Linked DNA regions of Homo sapiens. The protein of the gene in region 2 purifies or fractionates together with the protein of the main gene of each other region. This does not show direct contact. Each region holds a gene or a part of one and is shown on either strand. Other genes may lie near its edges.

Region 1 (7,032 bases), on a different chromosome or scaffold from region 2:
CGTGCCACCGCTCCCAGCTAATTTTTTGTATTTTTTAGTAGAGACGGGTTTTCGCCATGTTGGCCAGGCTGGTCTCAAACTGCTGACCTCAGGTGATCCACCCACCTCGGCCTGCCAAAGTGCTGGGATTACAGGCATGAGCCACACCGAAAAATATCTTTTAAAAAAATAATTGTGGCCAAAGAAGAAACTCTTGGGTATTGCTTGTGTTTTAATGAAAATATCCTACTGGTCAAATGGCTTTTTATGGCAAAATGAATACCTCAAGGTAGATGTCCGTAAGATTTGTAAACTCCCATTCTGTACATCTACAACACATGGGAGTATCAGATGCATATGATGTAATAAACTATAGTTCATATTTATGAAAAATAAAATTTCATTAAAAAACAGTTGTGGACAGACTCCAGTGTGGAACTATAAGACCATGTAAGCATTTGTTTTCTTTTACAGAGCAATACTTTTTTTTAGCAAAAAGTAATGAAGAGGGTACTAGCACCGATAGATGTAATTGAGATAAATGTCATGCATAGAGCGTAGCCATTACAAAATCAAAGTCCTTTCAGGGAGTCTTCTGCAATTAGGTAGGATAAGTGACTTGATTTCTCTTATTTTGAGACTTTACTTTTGTTTTTTAGCTTTTTTTTTTTTTTTTATTAGTGGGAATGGAGAGTTGATGTCCAGAATTTAAAGAAAAAAAAGAAATAGATGCAAGTATGGAAAATCGTTCCTTTGGGAAAAAAATGCCTTTTGCTGTCTTATCTAGTCTTAGCCAAGGAAATGTGTCCCATATGTTAGTTAATATATTTGAAATATTAGAAGACTCTACTCATATGAAAGACTGCTTTATTAACATGTAAATCTTTGTAAAATTGTAACATTGTAACAAAATCAGATTCATAGCTAGATATTTAAAATATATATAAAACTTAGCTTATGGTAATTTCCTATAACATATTCCATATTAAACTATAGCATACCTTATTCTATTCATATTTACCTCACTGGTTCTTTTTTCTGCTCTATAAAGAGAAAAAAGGGTATGCCTAAAGCAATACTGTATATCTTTTATCAGTTTCTGCTATAACTTAAGGTAAGATTTCTCCTTACTGATATTCTGTTGTACTTGGGTATGAGGCAGTTTGCAGGGCTGAGATACTGTAAATCTGATTTAGGAATTGTTGGTTTATATCTGATGGGTTTTATAAAAATCTAATTATACTTACTAAATTAGAATCTGTGAAAGCAGGACACTTGAATTTGTATTTTTAAGCAGATCTTCCAACTATGTGTTCTTTTGTTTTTTTGTTTGATTTTTGGCGAGGTCAGGAATTAGGAATTACTGCTAACCTGTAGAATAAATATAGTACACAGTGTAAACATAAGACTTCTGCTTTCTTCGAGCAACTTTGGACTATGCTTACAGATTCCTCAGGATATATGAATTTATTCTCCTGCCTATTTGCTTAGGTAAATAAGTTTAAGAAAAACTACTTTAAGATATTTGTTGAATTATTAGAGCAAAGGAAGGAAATAATAGATTTATTACCATTCAAAACATTGCTGAGACATGATAGAGAAAGGAAAAACAGTGTTACAGAAGAATTGAGTAAAAGGGAAAGGAGAGTAAAACTGCAAATTGGGAGACTTGGTCAACTTTTGTATTTTTCGTCTAGGCACATAGTTATTTACTGATTAACAGCTAGTAACTTGTACCCATCATAATGGATGTGTAAGTTTAGAGGAGGTGGAATATATAACAGTCATTTCCCTTTGCACATGTGCCTTAGAGCTAACATTGTTAACAGGTAGTAGTAGGAGGAATGTTCCTACCACCTGTCATTCATATTTTCCCAAAATTGAATATTTTTGTTTGGAATTTTATCATACTTGATTTTTATATGCAGAGAGCAATGAGCAAAATCTGAAAAATCATTCTTATAAATGTAGTTGTCTTTCACTAGTAAAAAATACGTAGTTTAGAATTTTTAAGGAGAATTTATCAAAAATAACCGAAATAAAAAATAATTTGGCATCTTTTCCCTACTATGTGGTTATTCGTTCAGTGAAACCAATACTTACTGAGTTAATGAGAGTAAACAAATAAGCAGTTGTTTATCATGTTCCTGGCACTGATTTTGGTGGTTTTTTGTTTTTTTATAATCAATATTTGTTATATGTGGAGAATATTTTAGTTTTTGGTAGTAGAGAATATTTGAGTTTTAATGGAATTTTATTCTCTCTTAGGTCATGTTTACTGGTGAAAATATTCCTGTTCATCCTCATGTTTATAGCAATGGTCATATCTGTTTATCCATTCTAACAGAAGACTGGTCCCCAGCGCTCTCAGTCCAATCAGTTTGTCTTAGCATTATTAGCATGCTTTCCAGCTGCAAGGAAAAGGTAAGACTTTTCAGAATTATTCCAGATAATATCTCTTCTTTCAGTTAGGTAGATAAATAATTTTAATATGTAATTATTTTTATTTGGAGGAAGGATTTATGCTTTTTATTTGAAAATTATAGGGAATTTCATGTTTAGTAATAAATTGGAAAGTTATTTTGATACCTTTCATTCCAAATAGAAGTTTTACATGTTGAATGGGGTAGAAGCCAGACTTACTGTTTTATATTCTTTTAAACAGGAAATGTACGGTATTTTCTTAAAGCTGATTTTATTCCCAAAAGCATGCACAGGTAAAAGTATACAAGAAATTCTTTTTGTAGATTTCACAGTGGAAAGCCTCAGAAAAGTGCATCATAGCTTCCTTCTCCCCTCTGCCAGCTCCCACCCGATCAACCTGTTTCAGGGAATTTTTCAGGAACCAGAGCTTCCCTGTCCTAATGATTAGGTTGAAGGAGGAAGACCAGTTTACCAGTCGAATTTTCAGGGCGTTTCTTCCTGTTCTCCTTTATTAATCCACAGATTCTATGTCTGATGGAAGTGGGGGGAAAAAAAACAAAAAGAAAAAAAATCACTTAATTAAACTTAAAATGTAGGCTGGGCACGGTGGCTTACACCTGTAATCCCAGCACTTTAGAAGGCCTAGGCAGGTGAATCACCTGCGGTCAGGAGTTCGAGACCAGCTGGCCAACATGGTGAAACCCTGTCTCTACTAAAAATACAAAAATTAACTGGGTGTGATGGTATATGCCTGTAATCCCAGCTACTCAGGAGACTGAGGTAGGAGAATTGCTTGAACCCAGGAGGTTGCAGTGAGCCAAGATCATGCCACTACACTACAGCCTGGGTGACAGAGCGAGACTCCATCTCAAGAAAATAATAATGAAATAAATTTAAAATATACATATAAATTTAGGATACCCTTTAAATGTATCTGAATCCTCTGTACACTTCTGACACTCTTGTCATTCCTGCTTAAGGGTTAGTATAGCATAACATTTATGTATTTCTACATTTTAAAACCCCTCTTAAATCCCTATGAGGGTTTTCCTTTTGCATTCTGTTTAAAGGAGAAACAGCTTTGCCCTAGAGGTTAGGGAGTTATTTGTGTTTTACAGTTTTCTTTCCTTTTCTCCAAATTGAACTGATTGTCATTTTTATTAAATTAGTATTTGGAGAACTTTTAAGATAATAGTTCATTTTTTAATGATAGGTTATTTAGAATCTGAAGCACTCTAAGCCACAGCATGTGAAATAATAGGTTAAATTGGTTTTGTTTTGTTTTTTTACTCATTTGTTGCTTATTGCTGTTATATTTTCTCCTCTCACCCACCCCCAACACACACACACGTTTTAAACTTTTATGTGTAGGGCAAAGCAGTTTGTGGGTACAAGGCCTTCTATGTTCCTGTTACGCTTAAAGACTATAGAAAGGTGAGACGGTAACAACAGTATTTAATAAGAAAGTTATTAAGAGATTAATGTCAGCGATATCTGTACATAGTCTTGCATGTGCCTCATGATTATTAGATTTTATTTACATTTAAATATAATGATTTATTATTAAAAACTAGAGAATGACTATATTCTGTGTACTTCCTTCATCTTCCTCTAACCCTCACCATTCCCCTTACATTCTAGTTGTCTGCTACTAGTGTTTCTTGTACACTTAGTATAAGACTAATCATTCCATTTAAAGCACTAATAAACTATGTTTTTACTGTAATAGTTGTATAATATTTAACCAAGATGATAATACAGAAATCAAGATTTCCATGAAATACGATAAAATTCAAAAAACATTTACTAGGTACCTAGTATGTGCTACTTTTACTGTGCTAAGTGATAAGTTACAAAGATGAAGAGGAAATTTGCCTTGGCATTGAGACGATCTGGCATTAGAGAGATCTAAGCTCCAAAGAAACCTTAAAAAGTGTTTTAGGCCAGGTGCAGTGGCTCACGCCTGTAATCCTACTACTTTGGGAGGCCGAGAAGGGTGGAGCACTTGAGGCCAGGAGTTCAAGAGCAGCCTAGGCAAAATGGCTAAACCCTGTTTACTAAAAATAGAAAAATTAGCTGGGCGTGGTGGCGCATGCCTGTAGTCCCAGCTACTTGGGAGGTTGATGCACAAGACTTGCTTAAACCCAGAGGCTGAAGTTGCAGTAAGCTGATATCACGCCACTGCACTCCAACCTGGGTAATAGAGCAAGACTCTGTCTCAAAAAAGAAAAAAGAAAAGTATTTTAAATACCCATCTACACGTTTTATTATTATTAAAACGGGTAAATTTTATTCCGTAGTGGACATGGTTCTATGGGCTTTACTTTGTTAATTCTACTACTATTAAATATTTTACTTTAGGTGTTTGGGACTTTAGTCATAATTCTTCTATTCCAATTTCCTTTTACACAGTCAGGAGTGGTTCCATAAACTGAAGGTATTTAAATCCAGTATGTCATTAGATTGTAGTGGATTAAAGATAATTTCTGATATTGAGATCACAGGACTTTCAGTAAATTCCACTTTATTTGCATGCCTTTGTAATATATTTACATTGTTCAAACTTTTCAGTTTGTATCCCATTCCTAAAACAATTTCGTAAGACTTCTTTTGTATAGTTTCTTTTCCAAGAACTGTATCTCCCTGATCATTTGTCAGGGAGATAAATGATTTAAGCAAATAGAATTGAGTATTTCTTTTTTCTAAATATGTATTTTTTGAAGACTTTTCTGATGATTCTTGGGTTCTAATCAACATATACATAAAATGAGTTTGTGAAAGTATCTGCTCTAGTAGTACCAATTCCATATGAACATAGATTTAACTTTGTAGAATCATCCCTTCCTTGAAGTAGTCAGGCATCTAATTTCATAATATTCATTTTTTAGGAATTTTCTCAAATTGTGTCCACAGATTGACTTGGAATACCTAAATGTCTTGACTGTCTTATGCTCTAATGTTTCTTTTTGTTAAATGAAATTACTAATATTAACACATAAGAGCATTGTGAGGCTCAACTAGACTGATAGTTACATATATGAGTTTTAGAAGTGCCAAATGGACTAACTGTTTTCCTTCCTGCTATCACAGAGTCCTACTCACGATTGCTTTCTGGTTAGACTTTCCTTAAATGATGTCATACCAAATTCACTTATTTTCATTAGCCTCAGGTAGAGGAGAGGATTCCCTTAATCTCTCATTTTCATTAGCTTAGCTAAGCAGATTTAAGTCTGAAAATAAATCCTGCATATACACTATACAATATTTAATGATAGGAAAATAATCAAGTTATTGGAATGATTCCGAAAGGCATAAAGGAGACTAAAGGATAAGGATATCTATCATAGTATCTATAAACTTTAATATAGCTTTAATATAAATTTGATGTTTCCAAGTCTTTGTAGAGGGTAACATTTTCTTTTGTCTAGGCAGTATGCAACAAATTTCAGGAAAAGTCTCTTCCATAATATATCTTCAGTGTTGTTGGCATCACTTTATCTGCGGTAGCTCCCTTGCGGAGCTGCCATATATTTCTCATATATTGTTCTAGTCAGGGCATATGTTCAGCAGAAAGGCCAATTATAGTAGAAATGCCAATATATATTTTTCCCATTTTTTCTCTTAAATATTGTTTAGAAACTGAATCTTCTGGTCTATCTTTGATGGTATTCTATTACAGTAAAAACAGTTCTTTGTGGAGGTTTGTACATTGCTATACTTCTCCCAACAAATCTAGTTTAGTAGACTTTTCTGTTTTGTTTTGAGACGAAGTCTGGTTCTGTCACGCAGGCTGGAGTGCAGTGGCGCAATCTCGGCTCATTGCAAGCTCCGCCTCCCAGTCTCACGCCATTCTCCTGCCTCAGCCTCCTGAGTTAGCTGGGACTACAGGCGCCCGCCAACACGCCCGGCTAATTTTTTTTTTTTTTTTTTTTGTATTTTTAGCAGACAGGGTTTCACCGTGTTAGCCAGGATGGTCTCGATCTCCTGGCCTCGTGATCCACCCGCCTCGGCCTCCCAAAGTGCTGGGATTACAGGCGTGAGCCACCGCGCCTGGCCCTTTGTTTTATTATTTATTTATTTTTTGAGATGGAGTCTCACTCTGTCACCCAAGCTGGAGTGCAGTGGCACCATCTCGGCTCACTGCAACCTCCACCTTCTGGGTTCAAGCAATTCTCCTGCTTCAGCCTTCCAAGTACCTGAGATTACAGATGCCCACCACTGCGCCCGGCTATGTTTAAATTATTATGTGAATTTGACTTTTCTCATCAGTCCTTTTTCATTCCCTTTATAATTTATTTAATTTTTTGTTTGTTTGTTTTGAGACGAGAGTCTCGCTCTGTTGTCAGGCTGGAGTGCAATGTCACAATCTTGGCTCACTGCAACCTCTGCCTCCCGGGTTCAATCAATTCTCCTGCCTCAGCCTCCCAAGTAGCTGGGATTACAGGCACGCACCACCATGCCCAGCTAATTTTTTTGTATTTTTAGTAGAGACTGGGTTTCACCATGTTGGCCAGGCTAGAACCTAACACAGACCACACTCAAACACGCTTATTATTCCTTTTTTAAATTTAGGTGTTAAGCATACACATTTCCTGGAATACATTTATAGTTTTTATTCTTTTAGATATA
Region 2 (5,185 bases):
CTGTATCTCAGTCATTAAGCAACGCATGATTGTTGAATGAGTTCTTTTTTTTTTTTGAGATGGAGTCTTGCTCTGTTGCTTAGGCAGGAGTGCAGTGGCGCCATCTTAGGTCACTGCAACCTCCACTTCCCAGGTTCAAGTGATTCTCCTGCCTCAGTCTCCTGAGTAGCTGGGATTACAGGCGCGTGCCACCATGCCCGGCTAGTTTTCATGTATTTTTAGTAGACACAGGGTTTCACCACGTTGGCCAGCCTGGTCTTGAACTCCTGACCTCTGGTGATCTGCCTGCCTCGGCCTCCCAAAGTACTGGGATTAAAGGCATGAGCCACCGTGCCCGGCCAATTGTTGAATGAGTTCTAAGCTCACTTAGCTGTTATTTACTTTTTAAACACTAGAAGCCTGAAAAGGAATCTCTTAAAGTAAAACTTTAAAACACATTCTTTCTACCACATGGCCAGGTTGCAAATAAGAAGCACCAAAAAAAAAAAAAAAAAAAAAAAAAGAAAGAAAAAAAACACATTCTGCTAAAACTTGGAATTTAATGAATTTTACTCACTACAGTTATACTCATTTTACATTAAAGTAAAAAAGAAAATAGCCAGGAGAGTAATTCATCTCCAGAAAGCAGTTTAAAGTTATTGTTTTTATTATTTTTATTTGCTACCAATATTTTTATTGTAAGAAATACAAAAGGTATTACAAATATACAAACTATTTGCTCTTTTTGCCTCATTCAATTTAGCTTTCACATAAGTGAACACATTGGACAGTGATATTTCAACACCAATTTTGAAAAAAACAATGAACTTCATCATCTGACAATAAATACCTACATTTTCATTCTAGCACCCAGTAAGACATCCAGTTTCCAAAGGATTATTGGTATGCAACCCTCTGAATTTTCTGACATGTTACCTTTGCCACTGCAACAGAAACACCACTGCAGTTCTCCCTTTCCCAATAAGTCAGAGTAAGGGGCAGGTAAGAATGGCTATCTGACTTCAGAAACCCTGGGTCACAAAGCATCCCTTACTTGAGCTACTTTTAAAACCAGATTTTTAATGATAGGGTACTTAAAGTTTTGGTGGTCCTTGAATGACATATTTTACGTTACATATTTACCCTACTTTTCTATTCTCCTCCTCAGATAGGAAGGGTATAGATAAACTGGCTATATTTTCATCTGCCTCTTGGGAAAGGAGCAAGAGCATTCAGCTCAGAGCATTCTGAAGACAGTAGCCTTAGAGATAAGCTTTCTTTCTTTCTTCTTCTTTTGCTTCAAGAGGGCTTTCTGTGTGTAATGGAGGGATGGTTGCTAGAGTGAGACAGCCCTTCCCCTCTTGCTATGTCTATACCATACCTGAGGCCATTTTTCTTAGAGGGCAAAAACGTTAGAATAGGTAGGAAGGTTCTTGCTTTCAGAGAGCTGTGCTGCACCCACAGGGTGGACCCGACAGGCCACTGTGGTAACTCTCAATCTGTGTACAGAGAAAAGAGAAGCAACATCTGATACAAAGTCACCTGCCAACATTCTTATAAGACTGTGTCCCAGGCAGTGAATTTCCACACTGCTTCTTGGGTCTGCAGAACTCAAAGCACCAAAACAGAGCATTCTGTAGCAATATAAGCAAACGGAATAAGAATAATTATGCACCTTTAAGGAACATGCACCCTTATAAGTCTGTACCCTGATATGAAAATAGCAGAATGAATTTCAAGTATGAAGAAATACAGTAAAAGTGTGGCCTGTAGATGGAGAGAAAACAGCAGCCTGGAATGTGGTTTATATTCTTGATTAGTTTTTCTCTTGGTACCACAGCCAAAACTGAATGCTCTGTACAATGACTTGGTTTAAAAATCAAGATGCATACAAAGATGCTAGAGGCATTTCTAATGGGTGCCATGAGCACAGTCTGTGCCCAGCATCAGGAACCATCTCTAGATGAATGTGGCTAGGTCAAGTTGGGAGTGGTGGCCAGGCCTAGACAGGCACACCTGTGGTCCATGATGTGGAGGAAGATGGAGAGCACCATGTGGACAAGCCAGGATGGTAGCAGGGAACACTTTAGTGGTAGAAAGGAAGAGATACAGGGGACAGAGATGTAGAGGTGTGGGGATGTTGGTCATCTTGGGCTGGTTCACACAGCCTAGATGAGTATCTGATATACACAATTTCTACATTTCTAGAACCATGATTTCAAACACAGAAACTAACAAGTCAAATTTCCAAATTAGATTTTTTTTTTTTACTTTCAAAACATTTTCTATTATAAGTCAGAAGGAAAAAAGCTTACTGTATGTGACAGTCTTCCTGAAACCTAAGAGAAAGTTTTAACCAGGCCCTATGGCAATGCAGAAACACTAATACATTTTACAGTGAAAACCTACTTTAACACATCTCAAAATGATAATCGTATAAAACTTTCTAGTTCTAATTTGCACTCTACGTGAACCAATATTTTTCTTTTCTTAACACATACTGCTCTTCTATACCAAACACTTGCCCTTTAACCTTCAGATAAAAACCTCAAATACCAAAAAATGCAACAAGCTTTTGAGGTGTTGGGAATTGTTGGTTGTTAAAATCCCTTTTATTTTATAATAAATTATACAGGCAATCCTTGCTTTTTATTACCACACTGGATTGCTTCTGTACACAGCTAAGTTGCCTGAAGCATGGAAACTTGGACTTCTCCATCTGACACGTTCTGGAAGCCTCAAGGCACAAGCTGACAGTTCTGCTTCTACAGAAAAACTCTCACACTGCTCTCCTCTCAACAGTACTGCCTGTTCCCACTACTCCACATGACACCTACGAGGGCACTACATCACGTGAGGGAAGCTTCTTCATGAGGGCAGACAAGAGGAGGCACCACCCAGGCACTGGTCTCTGCCTGGCATCTATTCCGAGGGCCACCTGGCACAGTTTCTAAATTAAGGCATATCTAAAATGCTTTTCTACCTTTAGTTTTTATTTTTGCTATATTTTTGCACTCTACTATATGCATATTTAATAAAAACAACTACAAAGTCCTTTACTTTAATTCCTTTACATAATGATAAAACACCTAGATACCCAAAATACTACATCTATATATTCAAATCTACTAATCATGTTACAAATGCATGCAGCTTATTTGGGGGCTTAGTCTAATTTTTATTTTCTTAGGTCCATCAATACCATGATAATGAACATTAGATGCAAAATCCTAACACTTTCTGCCTTCAGTTGTACTTTCACAGGACTAGTGTGATTCAGAAATAAATAACATACATGAATAATAATAGAAATAATTTATGCAAATGTAGAACAACTTGAAAAAAAATCCCCCGCCTGTCAGGTGCTGTTCCTGGGGGTAGCTGATGCTATAAATTCCATGTACTAACTAATATATTTACTACAGGTAATAGGAAAACAAATGAATAAAAAGTGAGGAACTATGATATACATGTGTATATTTTTGCAAACACAGGATCAGAATGAAAAGATATATCATGCACTGTGAGGTTTAAGAAATGTATTACTGCTGGGATTTGTTTTATTATTCAGACTTTAAGATCAAACTGAGAGTTGTTGGTGATCACAGAAATATTGCTAGCTGATACATATTATTGCATTTCATAAAACTTAAGATTAGAAACTTTCAAGTAAGGGTACAACGGGTATCTTCAGAACTTTAACCTAAGCACATCAACGGAATTTTTCTAGGGACCACAGAGAGTTAGAAATTAAATAATTGTGTGGCTCTATGTGTGCTGATTAGTGCTACAGTCATAGTTCTTGGCAGTCAATATGTAGTTATATGCCCCCTTTGAGAAAAACCTACATTTGACAATCCAAACTCCTAAAATTGAGAAAGGGTTATTTGTGTGACCAAACAACTCACACGGAAGATTCCTCTCAACATGAAAATCCCCTGCTACATGAGATAATTTGTTTACATACCTTTAATTACCTAACAAAGAAAAAGAGAGAAAAGAAACTGGAAGCTAAAGAATTGAGAGCTTTTGCCAACTGAAGACGAAGCAGAAAATAAACTTTTCAAAACAAAACTTTTCCAGGCATATCTTTCACCATCACATATATAGAATGATGGAAAATAAAAAAATAAAAAAAAATTCCTGCAATTATACATCTTTTCTTTAAAAAAACAAAAACAAAAACAAAAACTGAGCTTAGCGCCTGAGAGATGCGGGGTAGACAGCTTCACACAGGGCAGCTGCTACCGCATCTCTTTTTACCCGAACTTTCGGAGAATTGTGTTGTACTTATTTATGCACAGAAGACACCCGTTTGCTACTAGGGACATTTTTCTTCCTAAGATTTGCAGAACAGATGCCTCTGAGACAGCAGCAGGGCACTCTGACCTCGGAAAGCAGCCCGCGGGGCCGCACATAATTTCAGGCACCGGCAGGTGAGTGGGAGGCGGGGCCCCAGCCCGGCCTCGCCCACTGCCTCTCTCCTGCCAAAGGGGCGGGGCAACGAGGCAGCGCGCCCGGAAGGCTTTCAAGTGGGAATCAAGTTTTGAGCACGAGCAAATGGGGTTCAGACTGGCCACTGTTATAACAAACCCTGGGGTGGAATTCGGCCTTTCGCATAGGGGCTTTAACTGGACTCTAGTTCCTGGGAGCAGAGGGGCGAATGAGGCGGGGGATTTCTCAGCCAGTTTCTGACTGCCCCTAGTGTATGTGGCATTTTGGTTCAGTATGAATTACTGAGACTCATCTGCTTGCCACTCAGGAGGAAAGTTGGGCAGGCACCGTCGAGTGTCTGCCACTCAAAAGGAATAAGCTGCTTTCTGTGGTGCTGTGCTAAGGAAACTGAAAAATACTGCAATATCCTTCCCTACTAAATTTCAAGTGACACTGCTGTGAGAAAGGTGACCTCTAAAATTAACTTAATCATTTGGGGTATAAGAAGTCTTTAAGTAGACTTGTAAATTTAAAAAAAGTATATAAAGTTGCCAAAAAACTTCAAAAGTTAAGTATGTAGACACACTCCTAAGTTGTTATGCTCATATACTTCAGACTTTTTTTTTTTAATTAGAGCTTCTTATGAATTTACATTTGTGATTCCACAAATGTTAAAATTACCTGGTCTTTTGGTATTTTAGGGCTCTGTTTCAATACAGCAATTTTTCAGACAAAAGTTTTGTCTACTGAATTACTGATGTGCTACTCATTT
Region 3 (7,032 bases), about 87 Mb from region 2:
GTGACCCCACTAAAATGTAAGTCAGATTGTGTCACTCCTCTAATCAAAATCCTGTACCACCTCCCATCTTACTAAAAACCATAAATTAGGTAGGGCGCGGTGGCTCACGCCTGTAATCCCAGCACTTGGGAGGCCAAGGCAGGCACATCACGAGGTCAGGAGTTCGAGACCAGCCTGGCCAACATGAAGAAACTCTGTCTCTACTGAAAATACAAAAAATTAGTTGGGTGTGGTGGCAGGTGCCTGTGGTCCCAGCTACTTGGGAGGCTAAGGCAGGAGAATCCCTTGAATCTGGGAGGCAGAGGTTGCAATGAGCCAAGATTGCGCCACTGCACTCCAGCCCAGATGACAGTGCGAGACTCTGTCTCAAAACGAAACAAAACAAAACAAAAATAAATTGAAATTGTCTCAAGATCCCAGTCCATCTGTGGCCTCTCCTTTGCCTCTCCTCTCTTTTTTTTTTTTTTTTTCAGGCAGGTTCTCACTCTGCTGCTCAGGCTGGAGTGCAGTGGCACAACCATGGCTCACTGCAGCCTTGAACTCCTGGCCTCAAATGATCCATCTCAGCCTCCCAAAGTGCTGGGATTAAGGCATGAGCCACACCACCATGCCTGGCCTAGAGTTTATACTTTTAAAAACTTGTTTTATAATCAGAATTTCACAGTGCTTTAAAATATAATTATCTTAAAATTAAAGTATATTTTTGTCATACCCAAAGTATATTTTTTAGGGCTTACCTGACGAACTCTCTCTTTAGCAGACCTCATTAAGTGAGTAATAGCTCTGTTGTGATGTAGTCTCAATGAGCTAAACTCGTCACTACAAGTGAAAGAAGACAGCAGCCCCATTTTGATAAACGTCTGGCAAAGTACTATAAAAAGAATATGAAAAACTATTATTAGAAACATCTTTAATAAAATGGCAATTTTAAAGTGTACACAGAGAATAACGTGTAATAATAGCAATATATACAAAAACCTCAATAGGAAAAATACTATATTTATAAACACGTTAAACTTGGAGAATGTTCTCTAGAATAACGTAAAAGAAATTTTTTTTTGAGACAGAGAGTGCAGTGACAACTATCTTGGCTCACTGTAACCTCCACCTCCCGGGTTCAAGTGATTCTTCTGCCTCAACCTCCCAAGTAGCTGGGATTACAGGCGTGTGCCACCATGCCCAGCTAATTTTTCTATTTTTAGTAAAGACGGGGTTTCGCCACATTGGCCAGGCTGGTCTCGAACTCCTGGCCTCAAGTGATCTGCCCAACTCCACCTCCCAAAGTGCTAGGATTACAGGCATGAGCCACCAGGCCCAGCCCTTAGATAAATTTTTTTAAAAAGCGAAGAAACTTGGGGAATGATTCTCTAAAAGAGAAGGAACAACTAGTACACTCATTCATGAAAAGCACAACTATAATTACTTCTCTTTTTTTTTTTTTTTTTTGAGATGGAGTCTCACTCTGTCACGCAGGCTAGAGTGCACTGGCGCGATCTCGGCTCACTGCAAGCTCTGCCTCCCGGGTTCATGCCATTCTCCTGCCTCAGCCTCCTGAGTAGCTGCGACTATAGGCGCCTGCCACCAGGCCCAGCTAATTTTTTTGTATATTTAGTAGAGAAGGGGTTTCACTGTGTTAGCCAGGATGGTCTCGATCTCCTGACCTCGTGATCCACCCACCTTGGCCTCCCTAAGTGCTGGGATTACAGGCATGAGCCACTGCACCCGGCCTATAATTACTTCTCTTACCCTGTACAGTCACTTGTTTACCAAGACTAGTCAGTAAAGTACTAAGCCATTTCTAAAAAAAGGGCAAACAAAAAAAAGAGTAAACAAACTCTTCTGACATTCCACACATTACCCTTTGCTGTTAGGCAGTAAGAGAAGAATAAGAGCAGGAGGGCAAACATATGATGAGAACTTACAACAAAAGTGACCATTCATCGTCACGAAATACCTTTAACCAACATACAAAGAGCCCATGGTACACGTGTGTAAACCAAATATCAAGCTCCTTAGAAAAAGTAAGTTTCCACAAAGGTGCCTTGGCTCCTACTCATTCAACAAATACAGATACCAATGAGGACATTTTTTTTTCTTTCTTTTTTTTTTTTTTTTGAGACAGACTCTCACTCTGTCGCCCAGGCTGGAGTGCAATGGCACGATCTCGGCTCACTGCAACCTCCATCTCCAGGGTTCATGCGATTTTCCTGCCTCAGTCGCCTGAGTAGCTGGGATTACAGGTGCACACCACCACGCCTGGCTAATTTTTTTTTGAGACAGAGTCTCACCCTGTTGCCCAAATTGGAGGGCAGTGGAGCGATCTCAGATCACTGCAACCTCCGCCTCCTGGATTCTAGGGATTCTCATGCCTCACCCTCCCAAGTAGCTGGGATTACAGGCACCCGCCAACATACCTGGCTAATTTTTGTATTTTTAGTAGAGATGGGGTTTCACCATGTTGGCCAGGCTGGTCTCGAACACCTGACCTCGTGACCCGCCCACCTCAGCCTCCCAAAGTGCTAGGATTACAGGCGTGAGCCACCGTGCCCCACCAAGGATATTCTTTCTGCATCAAAAACTCTACAGTTATGAAAGCCACATTTGTTGCTAAAAAAAAAGAAAAAAGAAATAGAAAACTCTCCATTTAGATTATCAACTCACTGATTACATCAAAAACATTTATTTAAATAACCTTGTTTTAAACTTCAGTCATCTAGACTGGGCATGGTGGCTCACACCTGTAATCCCAGCACTTTGGGAGGCCAAGGCCAGTGGATCATGAGGTCACGAGATCGAGATCATCCTGGCTAACACAGTGAAACTCCGTCTCTACTAAAAATACAAAAAATCAGCCGGGCGTGGTGGTGGGTGCCTGTAGTCCCAGCTACTTGGGAGGCTGAGGCAAGAGAATCGCTTGAACCCAGAAGGTGGAGGTTGCAGTGAGCCGAGATCGCACTACCGCACTCCAGCCTGGGCGACAGAGCAAGACTCCTTATCAAAAAAAAAAAAAAAAAAAGTCATCTAAAGAGGCTGTATATAAGGAATTCAAAATTATCTTAAAATCAGTAAAATTCACAGGATTGCTTTAATCATGTACAAGATTACTGTATTTTTCTAATCTGCTTCTCTATTTGATGAGACTAATACAATAATTCCCAGTCACCAATGCTTCAGAACCTAAGGAATACACTTCCTTCTGTTCACCCCACCTCCCACCACATATGCCACTGCTTGGAATGCAGAGTGTATTATTTGCTTTATTCAAGAAGCAGTAGGTGTACAATGTACAGATATTTGTACCATTTTTCATGTCCCATCAAGTTTATCAAAATGATAATGTATCTTTAACTAAAAACGCATTCAGTTTTAAGACCACATAAAAGTATCTATAAGTTTGAGACTGTTTTGGTAAAAAAAAAAAAAAAAAAAAAAAGAACCTCAGAATCTCTGGCTGGAACTATTCTTTTTTTTTTTTTTCTCTAGAGGCAGAGTCTTACTATGTCACCCAGACTGGAGCACACTGGTTACTCACAGGAGTGATCAAAGCACACTGAAGGCCGAGGCGGGTGGATCACCAGGTCAGGAGTTCGAGACCAGCCTGAACAACATGGTGAAACCCCGTCTCTATTAAAAATACAAAAATTACCCGGGCATGGTGGCACGTGCCTACCCCAGCTACTCGGGAGGGTGAGGCAGGAGAATCACTTGAACCCGGGGGGCGGAGATTGCAGTGAGCGGAAATCGCGCCAATGCACTCCAGCCTGGGCAACAGAGTGAGACTCCATCTCGAGAAAAAAAAAAATTGTGAGCATTATCATAGTATAGATGCAAAAGAACTATATTTCATTTATTCAATTTTATGCAATTATGGGATCCACAGTTATATTTGTAAGGAATTACTCAAAGAAAAATGTAAGCTGAATTGAAGTAGGGAAATCATTAATATTTATTTCACTCCAATTTTTGTATACCAGACGCTTTCCAGACTCACAGCATTAAACAACATATTTTTATTTTGTATTTTTAATTTTTGTGAGTATATGGTAGATGTATATATTTATGGGGGTACATGAGATATTTTGATACAGACATGTGATGTGTAATAATCACATCAGGATAAATGGGGTATCCATCATCTAAAGCATTTATCCCTTCTTTGTGTTACAAACAATCCAATTATATTCTTTTCGTTATTTTTATTTTGTTGAGACTGAGTCTTGCTCTGTCGCCAGGCTGGTGTGCAATGGCGCGATCTCAGCTCACTGCAACCTCCGCCTCCCAGGTTCAAATGATTTTCCAGCCTCAGCCTCCCAAATTACAGCTGGGATTACAGGTGCCCGCCACCATGCCCAGCTAATTTTTGTATTTTTAGTAGAGACAGGGTTTCACCATGTTAGCCAGGATGGTCTCGATCTCTTGACCTCATGATCCACCTGCCTCAGTCTCCCAAAGTGCTGGGATTACAGGCGTGAGCCACCGCGCCCAGCCCATTCTTTTTTTTTTTTTTTTTGAGATGGACTTTAGCTCTTGTTGCCCAGGCTGGAGTGCAGTGGCGTGATCTCGGCTCACTGCAACCTCCGCCACCCGGGTTCAAGCAATTCTCCTACCTCAGCCTCCCAAGTAGCTGAGATTACAGCCATGTGCCATTACGCCTGGGTAGTTTTGCATTTTTTTTTTAATAGAGATGGGATTTCACCATGTTGGTCAGGCTGGTCTCAAACTCCTGACCTCAAGTGATTCACCCACCTTGGCCTCCCAAAGTGCTGGGATTACAGGCATGAGCCACTGCACCTGGCCATCTTTTTTATTATTTTTTAAATGTACAATAAATTATTGTTGACTGTAGTCACTCTGCTGTGCTATCAAATACTAGATCCAATTTATTCTAACTATATTTTTGTACCCATTAACCATCCTCCACTATCCTCCCAGCCTCTGGGAACCATCATTCTACTCTATCTCCATTAGTTCAATTGTTTTAATTTTTACCTCCCATGAATAAGTGAGAACAGCAACACAGTATTTTTACAAGCTTTATTTATTTATTTTTGAGACAGTCTCACTCTTTCACCCAGGCTGGAGTGCAGTGGCGCTATCTCGGCTCACTGCAACCTCCACCTCCCCAGTTCAACTGATTCTCCGCCTCAGCCTCCCGAGTAGCTGGGGTTACAGGTGCCTGCCACAACACCCGGCTAATTTCCATATTTTGAGTAAAGAGGGGGTTTCGTCATGTTAGCCAAACCGATCTCGATCTCCGGACCTCGGGTGATCCGCCCACCTCAGCCTCCCAAAGTGCTGGGATTACAGGCATGAACCACGGAGCCCAGCCTTTACAAGCTTTATTTAGCAAGATTCATTTATTCTTACTTACGCTTAAACACCTGTCTTGAACGAAGTGGGTTTGGTTCATGCACGTGGCTCAAGTGCTCCAGCAAAGAAACCAGCAAGAGTTGGTTTGCAACTGCAAAAGGGAAGGTTGGCTGTTGTAGGGGTTCTTTTAACACCTGGATTTCTGCTGGAACATCAGATTCTAAAAATTAAAAAGGAAAATATTTTTAAATTAATGGTAAACCTGTCTCATAATGACAAAACCGTATATTCTAATTAATGAAACATGAAATATTTAAATGTAAGCAGATAAAAACCAAAAGAATAGTTATGCTGAGTTGGGTTAATCAAGAAAGGCTTTCTGGAAGTGAATTTGGAGCTGAATCCTGGAAGCTGGAGGATCAGCAGAAAGATGCCGTGAGACAGAGGAGAAACAGTTTTCTGATGTGTCCAATAGTACAAATAAATCAATACGCAAGGAAGTGGGACTAGGATGGCTTCCTTCCTTTGAGAAGACAGCCAAGACCCAGGCATAAAGAAAGAAGTTAGGCAGAGGATGGCCGGGCGCGGTTGTTCATGCCTGTAATCCCAGCACTTTGGGAGGCTGAGGCCAGTGGATCACCTGAGGTCAGGAGTTTGAGACCAGCCTGACCAACATGGAGCAACACCATCTCTACTAAAAATACAAAATTAGCCGGGCAGTGGTGGCAGGCGCCTGTAATCCCAGCTACTCAGGAGGCTGAGGCAGGAAAATAGCTTGAACCTGGGAGGCAGAAGTTGCGGTGAGCCGAGATCAACCATTGCATTCCAGCCTTGGCAACAAGAGCGAAACTCCGTCTCAAAAAAAAAAAAAAAAAAAAAGAAGTTGGGCAGATGACAGAGGGAAAGATAGGAAAAATGGAAACTTTTCTCGATGAGCGTGTGCTACTTATCTACATGTACAATCTCCTTCAATGCTCAAAAAATAATATAAGGTAAGTGTTCATCCTCATTTTACAGATGAAAACACTGATCTCAGAGAGGCTGAGGAACCAGTGAACAAGGCAGATCAGACTGACTCCCGAACCCCATCCTCTTTGCACTGTATGAGACCATGCAGACAGACGAGTTGGCACTAAGGCTGAAGGTCGTTAAGTTCTCACTTACTGTTTATTTAAGACATGACTAAACAGGTAAAAAAAAAAAAAAAAAAACCTAGCTGGGCACAGTGGCTCATGCCTGTAATCCCAGCACTTTGAGAGGCCGAGGCAGGCAGATCACCTAAGGTCAGGAGTTCGAGACCAGCCTGGCCAACATGGAGAAACCCTGTCTCTACGAAAAAACAAAATTAGCCAGGCGTGGTGGCGCATGCCTGTAATCAATCCTAGCCACTCAGGAGGCTGAGGCAGGAGAATCCCTTAAACCCAGGAGGCAGAGGTTGAGATGAGCTGAGATCGTGCCATTGCACTCCAGCCTGGGCAACAAAGTGAAACTCTGTCTCAAAAAAAAAAAAAAAAAAAAAAAAAACTAGCTGGGTGTGGTGGCTCACATCTGTAATTCCAGCACTTAGAGAGGCCGAGGCAAGCAGATCACCTGAGGTCAGGAGCTCAGGACCAGCCTGGCCAACACGGTGAAACACCGTCTCTACTAAAAATACAAAAATTAGGTGAGCGTGGTGGTGTGCACCTGTGATCCCAGCTACTCAGGAGGCTGAGGCAGGAGAAT
Region 4 (7,081 bases), on a different chromosome or scaffold from region 2:
GGTGGTATCAGATGGATATGAGGAACTTGTCGGGAACTGGAGCAAAGGTGACTCTTGTTATATTTTAGCAAACAGACTGGCAGCATTTTGCCCATCCTAGAGATTTGTGGAATTTTGAACTTGAGAGAGATGATTTAGGGTGTCTGGCCGAAGAAATTTCTAACCAGCAAAGCATTCAAGAGGTGACTTGGGTGCTGTTAAAAGCATTCAGTTTTATAAGGGAAGCAGAACATAAATGTTTGAAAAATTTGCAGCCTGACGTGATAGAAAAGAAAAACCCATTTTCTGAGGAAATCTGCATAACTAAAGAGAAGCTGAATGTTAATACCCAAGACAATGGGGAAAATGTCTCCAGGGCATGTCAGAGGCCTTCATGGCAGCCCCTCCCATCACAGGCCCAGAGGTCTAGGAGAAAATGGCTTCGTGGGCCAGGCCCAAGGTCCCCATGTGTGCTGTGTGCCACCTAGGGAGTTGGTGCCCTGCATCCCAGCCACTCCAGCCATGGCTGAAAGTGGCCAACACAGAGCTTGGGCTGTGATTTCAGAGGTGCAAGCCCCAAGCCTTGGCAGCTTCCACATGGTGTTGAGCCTGTGAGTGCACAGAAGTCAGGAATTGGGCTTTGGGAACCTCCGCCTAGATTTCAGAAGATGTATGGAAACATCTGGATGCCCAGGCAGAAGTTTGTTGCAGGGGCAGGGCACTCATGGAGAATCTCTGCTAGGGCAGTGTGGAAGAGAAATGTGGGGTTGGAGCCCCCACACAGAATCCCTACTGGGCCACTGCCTCATGGAGCTGTGAGAAGAGGGCCATGGTCCTCCGGATCCCAGAATGGTAGCTCCATTGACAGCTTGCACCATTTACCTGGAAAAGCCACAAACAGTCAATGCCAGCCTGGAAAGGGAGATAGGAGGGAGGCTGTACCCTTCAAAGCCACAGGGGCAGAGATGCCCAAGACCATGGGGACCCACCTCTTGGATCAGTGTGACCTGGATGTGAGACAGGGAGTCAAAGGGGATCATCTTGGAGTTTTAAGATTCGACTGCCCTGCTGGATTTCGGACTTGCATGGGGCCTGTAGCCCCTTTGTTTTGGCCAATTTCTCCCATTTGGCATGGTTGTATTTACCCAATGCCTGTACCACCATTGTATCTATGAAGTAACTAACTTGCTTTTGATTTTACAGGCTCATAGGTGGAAGGAACTTGCTTGTCTCGGATGAGACTTTGGACTGTGGACTTCTGAGTTAATGCTGAAATGAGTTGAGACTTTGGGGGACTGTGGGGAAGGCATGACTGTATTTTGAAATGTGAGGACATGAGATTTGGGAGGGGCTGGGGGCGGAATGATATGGTTTGGCACTGTGTCCCTACCCAAATCTCATCTTGAATTGCAACTCCCACAATTTCCACATATGGTAGGAGGAACCCGGTGGGAGGTGATTGAATTATGGGGGTGGGTCTTTCCTGTGCTGTTCTCATGATAGTGAATGAGTCTCATGAGATCTGATGGTTTTAAAAAAATGGGAGTTTGCCTGCACAAGCTCTCTGTTTGCCTGCTGTCATCCATGTAAGATGTCACTTGCTCCTCCTTGCCTTCCGCCATGATTGTGAGGCTTCCCCAGCCACGTGGAACTGTGAGTTCTCCATTAAACTTCTTTCCTTTGTAAATTGCCCAGTCTTGGGTTTGTCTTTATCAGCAGCGTGAAAATGGACTAACACAGCTGTTCAAAAGATAACATACATGACTACATAACTGAAAAAGTGCTTATTCTACTAAAAAATCTATTTTGTAAGTGCTTATTCTCTTAATAGTAAAGAGTCTGTGAGGGAAGAAATTTGAAATCCCAAGTTCTTTTACTTTATAACTAGAAGTAAGTCATTTAAATCTTCCTGAACCTCAATTTCTCCAGGGTAAAATGGAGCTAATACTAACTACAGGCAGTATATGGCAGAGGTGACCTGAATGGAAAGAAATACTTCTGAGAATGAATGACAATCAAGCATAGTAAGATCACCCATGCCTAGAAATGACAAAACCCAAAATATTATCAAAGCAAGATGAAGGATTCTAATATTATCCAAATCTATCTAAAATTACCCATATTTAATCAAGGTAAACTGAATATGGTTCCAGAAAAGCAGGAATACAGCTTGCGTGAATGGAAAGATCAATGGAATTAGATTTAAGATCTACACTTATTAGTGGTGTAGTGAGGGCAAACTCCCAAAGCCTCAGTTTCTGTATTGTGGGTGTTTTGCACATTTATCTGACAAAGATTTATGGACTATTTACTAGGGCCAGGGCTTTACTAGGTAAGTGCCATACAAAAATGAAGGCATTGCTCTTGCCTTCAATTTCAATACAATGTAACAAATATTATAACAATAAGGGCTACTGAATATTTTCTAAGTACTAGGTACTATTATAAATACTTTTTACTCATTAAATCTTTACTCCCTTTCACTATCTAAAACATAGGTATTATCACAGAAAAGAGGCATAGAGAAGTTAACTATCTTGCCCAGCACCAAACAGTTATCAGAGGCTGGAGCTGGGATGTATCTTTTTTTTTTTTTTTTTTTTTGAGAAGGAGTCTCGCAATGTTGCCCAGGCTGGAGTGCAGTGGCGCGATTTCGGCCCACTGCAACTTCTGCCTCCCGGGTTCAAATGATTCTCCTGCCTCAGCCTCCCGAGTAGCTGGGAGTACAGGCGTGCGCCACCACGCCTGGCTAATTTTTGTATTTTCAGTAGAGATGAGGTTTCACCATGTTGGCCAGGCTGGTCTCGAACTCCCGACTTCAGGTGATCCACCCGCCTTGGCCTCCCAAAGTGCTGGGATTATAGGCTTGAGCCACCGCGCCCGGCAAAGGAGCTGGGAAATATTTTGACAGAGGGCAAGAACTTGCTAATCTGTGCAAGTGAGGGGTAGTGGTGGAGGCTTTCCACACTCAAGGGGCAGTTTTAGTTCACCCATTCGCAAACGTACTTAAAAATTACCTCTTAGAGTTGTGCTGAATAAATGAAACAGTATATTTAAGTCAGTATTGTGCCTGGGACATGTAAGCTCTTAATTAATGTTATTAATTTCATTTTATTCCTTTAAGTTGGATCACTGGCGAACAACGTGAGAATGTTTTCATGCCTTTGGCTACACATTAAAGCGACCTCTCCAAATGGGTTGTCGCATTTTACATTGCTACCAACAATGTAACAGCCTTCTAGTTGCTTTATGCTCCGATATACGAAAGAGCCCCACCATTTGATTCTGTTTTTCAGTTTCTGACAGCCTCACCTACTTTCTCTTTCAAGTTCATCTGCCACATTTTTACTTATTTTATTTTTTTGAGACGGAGTCTCGCTTTCTCACCCAGGCTGGAGGCTGGGGTGCAGTGGCGTGATCTCGGCTCACTGCGATCTCCGCCTCCCGGGTTCAAGCGATTCTCCTGCCTCAGCTTCCCGAGTAGCTGGGACTACAGGCGCGCGACACCACGCCGGCTAATTTTGTATTTTTAGTAGAGACGGGGGTTTCACCATATTGGCCAGGCTGGTCTCGAACTCCTGACCTCGTGATCCGCCCGCTTCGGGCTCCCAAAGTGCTGGGATTACAGGCGTGAACCACCGCGCCCGGCCCATCTGCCCCATTTTACATCACCACTGCCGTCACAAACAAAGTTCTCGTAAGAACCGCCAAGCGGCGCGTGGGCGGCCGCCCCATCCCACTATAATTGCGGCCTCGCAGCCTGACCCGGGGCGCCAACGCTCAATCCGGTTCTCGCGGGAAGATACACGGTTTTTAAGAAAGAACTTCTAACCCCACTCCACCGCCCAACGGTCACGTGACGCGCCTGCGTCCTCGCCTCAAGGTTTTTTCTGGTCGCATATTGGCTGTTAACTCGGCTACGGGGTGTAGCGAGGTGCATTCCGGAAGTAGGTCCTTTGACTTTTGCTTCCTCTACGGAGGCAAGTAACAACCCGGCGGTCGACGCTTAGCGGAAGTTCGTCAAGTCGCAGTTGCCCCCGCACAGCGGATGTGGGTCGCCTCTTAGGTGACGCTGGGAAGTGCCTGCAGCCTTCGCCGCTGCCTTCTGGTTGAAGCACTATGGAGGGAGAGAGGAAGAACAACAACAAACGGTGGTATTTCACTCGAGAACAGCTGGAAAATAGCCCATCCCGTCGTTTTGGCGTGGACCCAGATAAAGAACTTTCTTATCGCCAGCAGGCGGCCAATCTGCTTCAGGACATGGGGCAGCGTCTTAACGTGTATCCTTGTGGCCTAGGCCTTCGGCCTTGGAGTTGGTCCCGCCATGCTCTGGCGTCCGGGTCTCAGGCTCTGTGGGGGGGACGAAAGTGGGGAAGAAGGTGGGCAGAAGCTGGATGTCTAGTTGGGAGAGCCCACGATGGGGCGGGCTGAAACTCAGTTAGCGCTAGGGAAGCGAGGCAGAGTTGATTTCCCGCTCGCTCACCCGTGCCGCCAGCCTTGCTGGGAATTCGTATCCTTCCCGGCTTTGTGTTTTAACCAGCCCTTCCAACTCTGTCTTCATTGTGTTCTGATCTGCTCTGGTGACGTTAAGATTCTCATTTTCCGCTGTGCCCTAGGGGTCTAGGTCTGGCAGAGGTTTCTCTGTTGACGGCTGCCTCCCAAACCTAGTGTGTAAATTTCGAGAAATTCAGTACCTGAAAGTGTTATAAAGGGTGGACTAGAATTAATGCCTCAGCCTTGGTCCAAAATCCATTCCTCATCTACTAGCTGTTTAAGTGACCTCTCAAATTTTTGGCCGTCTTGTCTATAAAATGGGATAATACCTCTTGTGTTTGATTCTGTGTCCAGCACAGTGCTTTGCATTCAGATGCTCAGTTAGTAGCTACTGTTTTATAGAATTTCAGAGGAAAGATGTTAGTTTACGTTTGTAGGGGATACCCACGAATCTAATGTTTTAAATAGTTTACAAAATACCGGGTCCTTAACTTACTTAGAGTGATGATATGTATTTCATTTTCAAAAATGAGGTAACGGCTGGATGCGGTGGCTCACGCCTGTAATCTCTGCACTTTGGGAGGCCGAGGCGGGTGGATCACCTGAGGTCAGGAGTTCGAGACCAGCCTGGCCAACATGATTAAACCCCTGTCTCTACTAAAAATACAAAAAATTACCCCGGCGTAGTGGCGGGCAGCTGTAATCCCAGCTAGTCAGGAGGCCGACGCAGGAAAATCGCTTGAACCCGGGAGGCGGAGGTTGCAGTTAGCCGAGATGGCGCCACTGCACTCCAGCTTGGGCAACAATAGTGAAACTCCGTCTCAGAAAAAAAAAATTAAAAAAAAAATGAGGTAACCTCTCCCACATATTTTTGTTTGTTAGGAAATACACTTATTTTATGGTGGAGAAAACTAGTATAGTTTTAAATTTCTTTCCACTCTGCGTGTGAAAATTTTCTTGGGTGCAGCTTCTATTTAAATGTGTGGCTGACAGTAATGTGTGTATCTTAAGGGTGTGTTCATCTCAAAATGGGTGTCTGTTTTATCGCCAGTTTGTTTCCTGCTGATGTCCAGGTTTGTTTCCTAAGCATCCTGTCAGTATGGAGTTAAATCTTTTTGTTCGAAATTCTATTTCAGTGCATCCTTAAAATGCTTTCCTTTTTGTATGTGTGTTGTCATTAAGGTTGTCAGCCAGGCGCGGTGGCTCGCGCCTGTAATACCAGCACTTTCGGAGGCCAAGGCAGGTCGATCAGTTGAGGCCAGGAGTTCAAGACCAGCCTGGCCAACATGGTGAAACCATGTCTCTACTAAAAATACAAAAAGTAGCCAGGTCTGTTGGTGGGCGCCTGTAATCTCAGCTACTGGGGAAGCTGAGGCAGGAGAATCGCTTGAATTTGGGAGGTAGAGGTTTCAGTGGGCCAAGATGGTGCCACCGCACTCCAGTGTGGGCGACAGAGTGTGAGCCACCGCGCCTGGCCGCCTTATATAGTTTTTAAAAAAATCTGTCTAGATTCATACATCCTGAGATGTTTGTTTATTCATTCAGTACATTTATATTAAATATTTGTTATGTGTAAGGCATTGTGCTAAGTGTCAGTTGGCGATTAATAATTTGGTGAAAGAAAACAGACATATTCTTTGATTTGGAGAGATAAGTATGATTTTCATTTAGTAGTATCTACTTGCTTGGCCATTTCATCCTTTTGGGAGGGAGATAGAGGTTATCTTTTCCAGAATTATACCTGCCTGTTTTTGGATCTTAACTTGAACACTTCAGCTCACAATTGACTATCAACACTGCTATAGTATACATGCATCGATTCTACATGATTCAGTCCTTCACACAGTTCCCTGGAAATGTAAGTATAATTTTTTTATATGATATAATCCTTTTGTGATTGATTCCACCTACCTATTCCATTTGTGGTTGGTCTTTGCTACTGAACTGTAACTTGAACTTTAGAATTTAGGGTTGATCACTTCCATTATGTGCTGTGTTGCTGTTCTGAATCCAGCTTTTCAGTTTTCCTGTTAAGTGTCTACTTGTCTAGTGGATTTAGTATATCCATGTCGATTCTCTAAAGAAGTAGATTAGGCCGGGTGCAGTGGCTCACAACTGTAATCCCAGCACTTTGAGAGACTGAGATGGGAGGATCACTTGAGCCCAGGAGTTCAAAACCAGCCTGGGCAACATAATGAGACCTCATTTCTACAAAATATCAAAAACAAAAACAAAAAGCAAGTAGCTGGGTGTTGTGGTATGCATCTGTGGTCTCAGCTACTCCAGCAGCTGGCAAGAGGATTGCTTGAACTCAGGGAGTTGAGGATGCAGTGAGCCAAGATTGAGTCGCTTCACTCCAGCCTGGGCATCAGAGTGAGACCCTGTCTTCAAAAAAAACCCCAAAAAACAGATTATCAGACATCTAAAGTCAACATTTTGGGGTTGGAGGAGTAACATTAAAGGGGAAATCATGTGGAATTTAGGTATAGCTTTCTTTTTCTTGCTGGGGTAGGGAGACAGGCAGGGTCTTGCCCTGTTGTCCATGGTGGAATGCAGTGATTTGATTATGGCTCATTGCAGCCTTAACCTTCTGGGCTCAAGCAGTCCT

Evidence for each region.
Region 1: the proteins of CDK6 (region 2) and UBE2W purify together in Homo sapiens (affinity purification with mass spectrometry; 3 studies listed by BioGRID and IntAct, with this or other methods). This does not show direct contact.
Region 3: the proteins of CDK6 (region 2) and EIF2AK1 purify together in Homo sapiens (affinity purification with mass spectrometry; 3 studies listed by BioGRID and IntAct, with this or other methods). This does not show direct contact.
Region 4: the proteins of CDK6 (region 2) and CCNT1 purify together in Homo sapiens (affinity purification with mass spectrometry; 3 studies listed by BioGRID and IntAct, with this or other methods). This does not show direct contact.

Annotation. Positions count from the first base shown.
Region 1 is NC_000008.11:73,805,845-73,812,876, reverse strand, and holds part of UBE2W (ubiquitin-conjugating enzyme E2 W), read left to right. Parts: intron 1-2,247; coding exon 2,248-2,403; intron 2,404-7,032. UniProt on the Homo sapiens protein: Accepts ubiquitin from the E1 complex and catalyzes its covalent attachment to other proteins.
Region 2 is NC_000007.14:92,604,402-92,609,586, forward strand, and holds the end of CDK6 (cyclin-dependent kinase 6), read right to left. Parts: 3' UTR 520-5,185; downstream 1-519. UniProt on the Homo sapiens protein: Serine/threonine-protein kinase involved in the control of the cell cycle and differentiation; promotes G1/S transition. Phosphorylates pRB/RB1 and NPM1.
Region 3 is NC_000007.14:6,049,175-6,056,206, forward strand, and holds part of EIF2AK1 (eukaryotic translation initiation factor 2-alpha kinase 1), read right to left. Parts: intron 5,531-7,032; coding exon 5,372-5,530; intron 872-5,371; coding exon 738-871; intron 1-737. UniProt on the Homo sapiens protein: Metabolic-stress sensing protein kinase that phosphorylates the alpha subunit of eukaryotic translation initiation factor 2 (EIF2S1/eIF-2-alpha) in response to various stress conditions.
Region 4 is NC_000012.12:48,713,693-48,720,773, reverse strand, and holds the start of CCNT1 (cyclin-T1), read left to right. Parts: upstream 1-4,066; 5' UTR 4,067-4,098; coding exon 4,099-4,259; exon of another isoform or gene 4,260-4,489; intron 4,490-6,249; coding exon 6,250-6,331; intron 6,332-7,081. UniProt on the Homo sapiens protein: Regulatory subunit of the cyclin-dependent kinase pair (CDK9/cyclin-T1) complex, also called positive transcription elongation factor B (P-TEFb), which facilitates the transition from abortive to productive elongation by phosphorylating the CTD (C-terminal domain) of the large subunit of RNA polymerase II (RNA Pol II).